Regions from separate parts of the Homo sapiens genome. Here region 2 is linked to region 1. Evidence: fine-mapped expression QTL. Tissue or cell type: whole blood. Region 1 holds a variant in brackets; the other region holds the start of a gene. All regions are shown on one strand. Distances are between the middles of the regions.

Region 1 (5,191 bases):
TTCTCCTGGAGATTTCAGTGGGACTCGTCCCCAGTGGGCACAACACAGCCCTTGGTGGGAGGGGAAGGCCCCAGCCTCCTCCACCTCCCACTGGAAAGCAGACTGCTTGGGACTGCCCAGCTGTGAATTGTATAGTTTCTGTACTTATTAGAACTGGGTAAATTATTTTGGTTCAAATCTATTATTCCATCAATTCAGTTAGAATTGAATTTTCTAGGTGATTATGCAGAATCTTCTGCCAGGGCACGATGCTGTCGTAAGAGATTTCTGTTCTCTGTACTGGGCCCCCTTGCCCTGTTCCTTGAGTGAAGTGGGGGCTGCCCTCACCTGTCCCCCTTGCCTGTGAATCCCTTCCTTGTACATGGTGGTCAGTGGCACGGAATCCCCAATAGATTGTATATCTGAAGGAGAAAAATAAACACTTTTGCTCGAAAACAGTGTGAAACAACATCTTTTTCTTACCCTCTATCCATATAAAATCCAAAGCAACCAGCCTCCTAGGGAGCACAGGAGTTGGGAGCCAGTTCTGGGCTCAGCTGCATCCACACCTCTGGAGGAGGGTGCTGAGGGGCTGCGGGTGCTGGGCTGGGCTGTCCCCGGCAGGGGTCTGAGAGCAGGGCATCTGGCAGGGCTGCCTGGCCCCCAACACTGCCCCCGCCAGCTGTGGCCTGGGCCCCGAGCACGGTCAGCTCTGCTGGTCGGGTTAGCTGGCTGGGCTGCCCACCACTCTGCACCTGATTACACTTAGCAGTGCCACGGGCTGTGACCATGATGGAGGGAGCCAGCCTCCTGGTCAGCGAGACACACCTGCAGCCCCTGTCTCCAGGAGGCTTGGTTTGCATTACTTGCTGCAGCCCCTGGGGCCACCCTCTTTGCTCCAGATGGGCCGAGCTCAGGGGAAGTGGGAGCTCCTCAGATGAGCTTGGACTTGTTGAGAGGAGGACTTGGGGCTGGGGTTGCCCATGGATCATGCAAGGGGCAGTGGCTTTTCTGGTAGGCACAGGGGCCTTAGGGAAGGTGGCCATCCAGGGTGGGGCCTCATCCTGTGGGACTCAGCGCATGGTGGCAGCCAGCCCCCCAGCATCCCACTAAAGACAGCCTCGAGCTGACTGTGGTCCCTCCTGCGTGTGCATTGCAGGCCTCACTGTGAGCAAGCTGAGGGTCCCAGTGTCTCCTGCCCGGTCCACTGTGGGGGCTGCCTTGGCTGTGGGGCCACCTCCTCAGAGAGCTGCAGTGCCAGCCTTCGAGCTTCTGCATGGAGGGAGGAGGAACACTCATCCCAGAGCCTCCTGTTTTGGGTGTTGGAGGGCAGCTCACTCCCCAGATGCTCCAGACGGTACAGGAGCAGAGCGTCTGTTTGGGTTTCTGGCAGCCGTTCAGTGTGCTGACTGGTCACACAAAGAAGGGTGGTCCAGGTGACAGAGGCCGCCAGGGCTGTGCTGAGGACAAGACCATCTACACAGGGCGTGGGTCATGGCAGAGCTGGCGCAGCCTTCCCGTCGGCAGCTCCTGGGAGGGTGTCAGGGCCTGGCCCTTGGCGAGTGGCCAGCACTGCGGTGGGCCCACAGTCAGCTGCGCGGTTTTGTTTTCCAGATCCTGAGAGTGAGAAGCCTGACTGACCCCGCCTAGACGCCAGGCCCACTTCACGCCGTCTAAGTGGAGAAGTGACGGACCCTCAGGGCCAGCTGCTCCTCCTGTCCAGTTCACGCTGTTTTGTAACCACTTTCTAAGCATTTTTTATTCACAATTGGAAACACAAATGTAATGCAAGAATAAAAAATATTTTGGGGCAGAAAGGACTTTGGTTTTTCAAACTATTTCCTCTCTGGTGGCCCTCGGCCAGCCAGGTGACTGGGATGTGACAGGGGTGGGGGGACATTCCCAGGACCCTGGCATGCTCAGGATAGCCCTGTTCTCTGCAGGGCCCTGGAGGTGGCGGCCCCGGGGAGGCTGATCTCCAAGTCCCCCCGATGCCAGCTGGCACGGACTCGGGGTCCTGGGTGCCTCCTGGCCTTTGCTCACGGAGCTCCATGAGGCAGACCCTTCCCTCTGGTCTTTGGAGGCTTGAAGTCACCCACCACCCCCACACCCACCTCCCAGGCACCCTCCTTCCAGAATTCACCTGCACTGGCAGGGAAAACACCAGTGGCCTGGGGCCAGAAACCTCTGGCTGTGGGGTGGCAGGTCTGAGACCACTGGCTCCTTGGAGGGCTGCATACCCCCCACTCGTGGGAGGGGTCCTAAGTGTGAGAAACGAGGAATGTTGACATGGCCTCACCAAGGAAACGTGCCGTGGTAAGGTCCCCACACCCTAGCCTGGCCAGCAGGCACAGGAGCCTTATGCTGGGTCCAGAGGTCTAGGGAGAATTTGGGGTCCCATGCATCACAATGAAAAAGCATTGCATCTCTATTTTCATTAATGTCTAACTGCAATTTAGCATTTCCTCCACTAACAGCACCTGGACTTCATCACCACTAGACACCACAGATATTGCTGTGCCATGCCATTTACATCCATGACACAGTGCCCTTCCCTGAGATGTAAAACTGTCCAGCCGGCTGATGGAGCAGCGCTGCCTGCCTATCTCAAACATGAGTCTTCAGGGCACAGTGACGCTGCTTCCCCACGGGAGTGTCGGAGATGCCATCCCGCTGTGTGCGGGTGACCTCGGAGTCCTGGCTCTTCTCCGTGTGATCAGCAGGGTAGGCCTCCTCCAAGCCTCAGCTGGGAGCAGGGATGGCACGGTGCTAGGAACATGGCTTCCCTTGGTCTTAGTTTGTGTTCTCTTCTGTTGGTGGCTCATGTGACTGGTTTTCTGTGGACCATAGTAATGCAGTTTGCCTTTT[CT/C]TTTTTTTTTTTTTTTCTTCTTTTTTTAATGAGACCGAGTCTTGCTCTGTTGCCCAGGCTGGAGTGCAGTGATGCAAACTCAGCTCACTGCAACCTCCGCCTCCTGGGTTCAAGTGATTCTTCTGCCTCAGCCTCCTGAGTAGCTGGGATTACACGTGTGCGCCGCCATCACACCTGGCTAATTTTTGTATTTTTAGTAGAGATGGAGTTTCAGCATGTTGGCTAGGCTGGTCTCAAACTCCTGACCTTGTGATCCGCCCGCCTTGGCCTCCCAAAGTGTTAGGATTACAGGCCTGAGCCACCGTGCCCGGCCGCAGTTTGCCTTTCAAACTGCACATTTATTTTAATCATTTTCTTTAAGTGAATAATAGTATAAATGTCAATGGTAAAATTTGGTGGTAGTATGGTAGTAAACAGTAGTACAATGGTCAATGAAATGGTAATGGTCAAGCCAGCACCCTCTGAGGAGATTCTGCACAGTGCACTTCCAGGACTCTGGGGCCCCGAATCCCAGCTTCATCTGCTGCTCAGAACCACCTAGCAGCCCTCCAGGGCCGCTAGGAAAAGGCCCCAAGCCTCAGCCGCAGAATCCAAGGCTCTTGGTGTTCAGCCTCACCCACTAGACGCGTCCGTGCTTCAGGCTTCACTGCTGCTGCACAGCGTGCCAGCTGGGCCCGGATATTCTTTTTTTTCTTTTTCTTTTTTTTTTTTTTTTGAGATGGAGTCTCGCTCTGTCGCCCAGGCTGGAGTGCAGTGGCGCGATCTCGGCTCACTGCAAGCTCCGCCTCCCGGGTTCCCATCATTCTCCTGCCTCGGCCTTCTGAGTAGCTGGGACTACAGGCAGCCCTGCCACCAGGCTGGCTAATTTTTTGTATTTTTAGTAGAGACGGGGTTTCACCGTGTTAGCCAGGATGGTCTCCATCTCCTGACCTCGTGATCCACCTGTCTCGGCCTCCCAAAGTGCTGGGATTACAGGCATGAGTCACCGCGCCCAGCTCCGGATTCATTCTTGACCCTCCCAGTCCCGGGTTCTCTCCTCCTCTGGGTTCTATCACACAGTCTGGGTGGACAGCTCACGAGAGCCCCAGAGACCTCAGCCCCTCATGGAGAGTTCTCATGGGTGCATATTATTTGTTATGCTTGACTTCCTGAAAGCAGGGACTTAAAATTGTTTCTGATAGCCCTTCACCTTCCAAAACAGTCACTGAGTGAAGCTGGCGCGCAATGAATTATGCTGATGAAGGCAGACTCCTTTGGGCAGATGAAGCTTCCAGTGGGTGCTTATTGGCTCTGATCACAGCATTTCTGGGATGGAAAGGACCCTGCCAGGCCTCTCCTAGGACAGCAAAGGCAGCATCACCTGGGGCCAGTCCAAGCTCCTCCTGCAGGGTCAAGGCAGCCAAGCCACAGCCTCTGCTCTCCAGTGTTGTTTTGTTTTTAGCTGACCCCAGCATCCAACCAGACTTCCAGTGTCCAGGGTGATATTGCGCCTCATCTCCAGGCTGAACAGCTTCAATTCTCTGAAAAGTGCTTATTACTAAAGGGCTGGTAAGGCTAGGCGCAGTGACCTATGCCTGTAATCCCGGTGCTTTGGGAGGCTGAGGCAGGAGGATCACTTGAGGCCAAGAGGTCAAGGCTGCAGTGAGCCGTGATCACATCACTGCACTCCAGCCTGGGTGACAGAGTGAGACCCTGTCTCTAAAACAAACAACAACAAAAAAAACAAAAACAAAAATAAAACACCTGAAGAAGCCTGTCTTCATTCATTAGAGGATGCAATTAAGCCTGGGCCAGGACGCCTGCCTTCCAGGTGGTTAAGGGAGTTCAGCAATGGTGACCACTCTGTACACATCGTGGTTGTGGTCCCTGAACTTGGCTTTATTAGACTTGCCCTTGAGAGGGGGCAGAAGGCCCACATGCCACAGGCATCACTGTGCTGGTGGTGGCTCATGCAGTCCTGCAGAGGTGTGGAGAAGAGTCCCTCACCCTGAGAGGACACTGGGGGTCGAAGGCTGCCCGAGGCCAGGCTGGATGGGGAGACAATGTTGTCCCATGCAACTCTGTGAAGAATCATTCATTTCTCACTGTGGTGGACAGCAGAGACCAGGGTCCTGGGCTGCAGGGGTCGGAGCTGCCGCCAGCTGGTTCTGCCTCCCAGTGAGGCTGTGTGGGCCGGGGCAGGAGGGCTTTGGAGCAATAGCAGTTCCTAACAGTTGATCCTTTTGAGCCCAAGCCCTCCAAATTTGATCACCAGCTCAAGGTTCTGTGAGCTGCCAGACCCATAAATCCAGCTGCCTCTCCCCCTCTCCATGGAGACCCTCAAAGTCATCTTGAAGATGCTCC
Region 2 (5,114 bases), 130 kb after region 1:
CAGAGTGGTGCGAGCCGACGGCGGCGTTAGAAAGGCGGCGTCCCGACGAACAGAGTGACTCGGCCTCGGCTCCCCTTCAAAGCGCCATCTTATCGCTGCTTCCCTCAGGAGCAGGCGAGCTCTTCCCCAGGACCTGCTTCGCGGCTTCCCTTCGCCCGAGAACCACCGGGCGGAGGCGGCGGCCTCTCTGGCCCTGCCGGGAACAGGGCGCAGGGGAGGGGAGCGGCGGCCGACCGGCCTGAGGCGGGCGAACGGCCTCTGGCCTCCAGGCGCTGCCTGCTCCGGCTCAGAAGCCTCCCGGATCCCGTCCCGGCCCAACTCCGGGCCTCCGCCTCCGCCGCCGCCTCCGGGAGCCCCGAGCCGCGTCCCGCCGGCGCCGCCTCTTCCGCCTGCTAGCCGGCGGGCCTGGGCGGCGTCCGCGCCGGGCGGGTCCGCTACGTCAGCGCCGCCCGCCCGCCCCGCCCCGGCCCTCAGCCTCGGCCTCGGCCTCGGCCTCGCAGCGGCGGCAGCGGCGGCGGCGGCAGGTCCCTCCCCAGACATGGCCCTGGGAGGCGGCAGCACATGGCGGCCGCGGCGGCCATGAGCGCGCCCCCGACCCGCCCCAGTCCCCCCTAGAGGCCGCCGCCCCCGCCCGCCAGCCCGCCCGCGCGCCACGGCCCCACCACCCCCGGCCCCGCCGCCCCCCGCCCGCACCCGCGCCCGCGCCCCCGCCGCCGCCATGGGCGTGCAGGGCTTCCAGGACTACATCGAGAAGCACTGCCCGAGCGCCGTGGTGCCGGTGGAGCTGCAGAAGCTGGCCCGGGGCAGCCTGGTGGGCGGCGGGCGGCAGCGGCCCCCGCAGACCCCGCTGCGCCTGCTGGTGGACGCCGACAACTGCCTGCACCGCCTCTACGGCGGCTTCTACACCGACTGGGTCAGCGGCGGCCAGTGGAACCACATGCTTGGCTACCTGGCGGCGCTGGCCAAGGCCTGCTTCGGCGGCAACATCGAGCTCTTCGTCTTCTTCAACGGCGCGCTCGAGAAGGCCCGGCTGCACGAGTGGGTCAAGCGGCAGGGCAACGAGCGCCAGACGGCACAGCAGATCGTCAGCCATGTCCAGAACAAGGGCACCCCGCCGCCAAAGGTCTGGTTCCTGCCGCCCGTCTGCATGGCCCACTGCATCCGCCTGGCGCTCATCCGCTTCCACGTCAAGGTGAGGCCGGGGATCCGGGCGGGCCGGGGACCGGGGCCGCGCCGCACCCCTATCCCCCTTCCCAGGGCGCAGAATGTCGCCCGGCCGTGGCGGCGCTGGGGGCAGCGAGTTCCCCCAGCCCTTGCCCGGGATAGCCTGGCCGGGCCGGGCTGCAAGATGGATGGCCGCGGGTGCAGGCCGCGCGCTGCCCAAGCCCGTCTCCAGCTGTCCCTGTTCGGGGTCCGCGGCCGCGTGGGGACACTTGAGGGCTGGGAGAGAGCCCCGGACCAGAATTCGGAGGCGACAGTGTCATCATCCCCAATATCCTTAGTTTTTCCCATCCTATTTGAGGCGGGCAGGCTATCACTCACCTTCAACTTTGACAAAATACTCCCTTTTCTAATTTAGCCTGTTCTTTCCCAGCAACAGGTTCATCTTGGAAGCAGGCAGGATACAGAGTAATAGAGGGGGTTTCGCCAGAGCCCTTGGGGGCTGCAAATATCAGTGCTGCTGCCGCCGCCCTTGCCAATGTTGTTAGCCCGGTGACAGCGAGACGTGTCTAAGGGCCAGTGCCCTGGCCTCTACTTCAGAACGCAGTGCCCTGTCCGTGTTCCTCTTAGTACAGGGTGTTTAGAGAATCTTTCTATGGCTTTTTGTGTTAGATTTCAAAGACCCGTGCACTTTGACAGGATGGGATTTTGTCAGTTCTGTGACTTCACGTCCGTGTGAAAGAGGTCTTTAAGGCAGTTCGGTTTTGTAGATCCCATGCGAAAGGAGTCGCTCAAAATCAGGGGGCGAACTACGCGGGCGTGAACTCGCAGGATTTATTTTTCGGGTGCACAGTAAGTATTCAGTGACCTTCAGCGGTGCCCTGACGGGTGGGTAATCAGAGCTCTATATCACCGGCCTCCTCTGGCCCTTTGGCAGAGGGCTTCGCAGCTGGCACTGGGCCAGAGGAGAACTTCAGGACCCAGCAGTGACTGTGAAGATAAGCACATCCATGATCCTGGACTTCACGTTCTGATTGCTTGCTTTTTTCATTGGTTTTCTTGAAAACAAATTTTGGGGGCCTTTTTGTTGTCTTAGCTCTTGACACTCGGTCTTCCATCTTGTCATTTGACATTTCCTTGAAACTGCTGGAGCTGAAAGTTTGTGAAATTCTGTCTTCGCGGTTGCCCCCACTGCCCGCGAGGAGATGGTGGTAGTTAAGCCTAAAATGATAGCGGAAGTCCCACCCACGATCCGGTTGCAATTGGTGAGATGGTGTTTAAGTCGTGGGTGGAGGCGGCCGGCAGAGTCCCGATTGGCCCCTGCGCCTGGCAGACACACAGCTGCCATTCCTCAGGGAAGTTCGGGTGAGAGGAAGTGCCTGCCTTTTAATTTCTGAATCGGAGCCTGGGGCGCTCAGGGAAGTAAGGTGCTGCCATTTGTCTGAAGCGATCCATCTCCCTAATAGAGCGTAAAAGTGTTCATAGTTTAGTCTTGTTCAGAGATGGAAAAGACTACTTAAAAGACAGGATGAGCTGCACTGACTTGCCTTTGGTAACCGCACAGCTCTCTACTTAACTAGTCAAGCGACTTTCAAGGGAACACTGTGAATATTACTTAGGATTAGAATCAGTATGTATGCATATGGTCACTGTATCTTTAAAGAACTGTTGAGTTCTTTTTAATTCTACAGTTTCTTTATCTTTGCACCCCTTTGAATGCCTCGCACACCTAGTAGGTGCTCAGAATTCAGACCAATGTGTCAGTGTTAGGAAACTAGATTTAAGCTCCATTTAAGATCGTCTTTTTCACTTAGGTTTCTGGACACGGGATAATGGGATAATTTTGTCTGTATTTTGCTTTTGCTAAGCTTTTAATTATTGACCTAGGGTCATATTATAGTGCGAATTGCACAAAATGAATATTGTAATAACTCAATTACTTGGTGGTCTCTTAGCTGGCAACCTTACCTTTTTGAAAAGTGCCTAAGAGATTTAGCTACTAGAAATTTCTCAGCAACCAAGCAAGATGTCAGGAAGTTTGGGTACAGTGATGTGGGGGGTTGGCGGGTGTAGGGGGGTGCTTTTGCTTTCCTCACTGAAGAATCCTTTAAGCTCTCTCACTCATGGACTGGCCTCTTTTCATATGTAATTCTAACAAGCTTGGTTATCTATTTTCTAAACTCAGCTTGAGAAGAGGATGAAGAGGAGAGTCTGCCAGAGGCAGGAGCACCATTAATAGCAAGAAGTGACAAGAGAGATTTAAAAAGCTATAAAAAGCAAACATAATTCTGGGGCTATTTTAAGAAAAGGAAAACAACCCTATGTACTTCCTTGGTCCCTGAGGGTAGTACAATGTTTATTCTATAAGGATGATTTTGAGTCATAAAAATTAATATTCAGCATTCTCTGTTTAAGGGATTGAAACAGTGTATACCATTTAATAAAAGATACCCATAAAGTGGTTAAAACGTTTAAAACCATGATATCACTACATGCCTATTAGAATGGCTAAAAGAGAAAAAAATATGAGCAATACCAAGTGCTAGCAAGAATGCTGAGCAACTGGATCCTTACACATTGCTTGTGGGAATGCAGAATGGCACCACCACTCCAGAAAACAGTGGCACTTTCTTATAAAGTTAAACATACATTTATCATACGATCCAGCAATTCCACTCCTGGGTATTTTCCTAATGAAGACTTTTGTTTGTGCAAAAACTGGTACTCAAATGTCCATAGCAGCTTAATTCATAATAGCCCAAACGTGGAAACAAAGTATCCTTTAATAAGTGAATGGTTAAACTACAGTATAGCCATACTATGGAATACTACTTAGCAATAATAAGGAAGGAATTGCTGGTGTAGGTAACAACTTGCATGAATATTTAATTAAGGTTTTATACTGAGTGAAAGAAGCCAGGTTCAAAAGGGATGATTATAAAACTATAGTGATAGGGACCAATTCAGTGGTGCTGAGAGTAGAGGAGGGGAAGGATGTACACATAAAGGGGACAGCAGGAGAGATCTTTGTGGAGTGATGGAACTGTTCTGTATTCTGATGGTGGTGATGCTACCATACATTAAAATCAGAACTATTCATCCAAAGTAAATGTGTTAATTTTATCATATGATAATTTTTTTAAGATTAAGTAAAAACCACTGGCAAAGGAATTGACATGAACAATTCAGTATATATAATGTTGAGTAAATGAGACATTTATAAAAACTTTAAGCATCTTATTGGTGCTTTCTAGTGTTTTGTAAATTGGCAGAGGGGCATAATTTCCTGTTACCTTTGCTTAGAGAAATCTTTTTTTTTTTTGAGATGGAGTCTCACTCTGTCTCTCAGGCTGGAGTGCAGTGGCGCGATCTCGGCTCACTGCAACCTCCACCTCCTGGGTTCAAGCGATTCTCCTACCTCAGCCTCCCTAGTAGCTGGGATTATAGGCGCCTGCCATCATGCCTGGCTAATCTTTGTATTTTTAGTAGAGGCGGGGTTTCACCATCTTGGCCAGGCTGGTCTTGAGCTCCTGACCTCGTGATCCACCTGCCTCGGCCTCCCAAAGTGCTGGGATTACGGGCGTGAGCCACTGCGCCTGGCCAGGAGAAATCTTTTTTGATTTAGAGATTATTTCTTTTACAGAGTAGTAATTGTATTTTTTTGTTCAGTAGTAGTAATTGTATTTCTTTAACCATTAGAAGTTGGTCTACATGGAAAGACAGCCAGAACAATGAAAATAATAATACTTTGGCCTATGTATTGACTAGTTTTGTGTAGGTCCTAAAATAGCCTAATTTGAACTTGGCTTTAGCTAGTTACTTGGACAGTGTTTCTTCTTGTGTGCCTTGGGTCATTATAACCTTTGAAACTTCAGTGAATGACTTATGTTTATTTTAAAATCTTAGTGGCATGAAGTCACTGGAGCTTTCATAAATGTTTCTGCTATATGACT

The links. PIP is the estimated chance that this variant, and not a neighbour inherited with it, causes the effect.
Region 2: it holds the start of FAM120AOS, and the variant in region 1 is fine-mapped to the expression of FAM120AOS in whole blood (INTERVAL, PIP above 0.99).

The regions. Positions count from the first base shown.
Region 1 is chr9:93,318,774-93,323,964 of GRCh38, forward strand. It overlaps WNK2 (WNK lysine deficient protein kinase 2), which reads left to right. Exons shown (of 30, transcript NM_006648.4): 30 at 1,594-1,796. The coding sequence ends at 1,619. Among named protein-coding and RNA genes, the nearest start is that of FAM120A, 130 kb to the right of the region's middle. The variant CT/C (reference allele first, on the strand shown) is at 2,848.
Region 2 is chr9:93,451,198-93,456,311 of GRCh38, forward strand. FAM120AOS (family with sequence similarity 120 member A opposite strand) reads right to left here and starts at 2,384. Exons shown (of 3, transcript NM_198841.4): 1 at 950-2,384. The coding sequence starts at 1,512. FAM120A (family with sequence similarity 120 member A) reads left to right here and starts at 488. Exons shown (of 18, transcript NM_014612.5): 1 at 488-1,192. The coding sequence starts at 719. RefSeq lists enhancers at 1-517, 2,097-2,226, 2,290-2,584 and silencers at 98-627, 768-897, 1,198-1,377.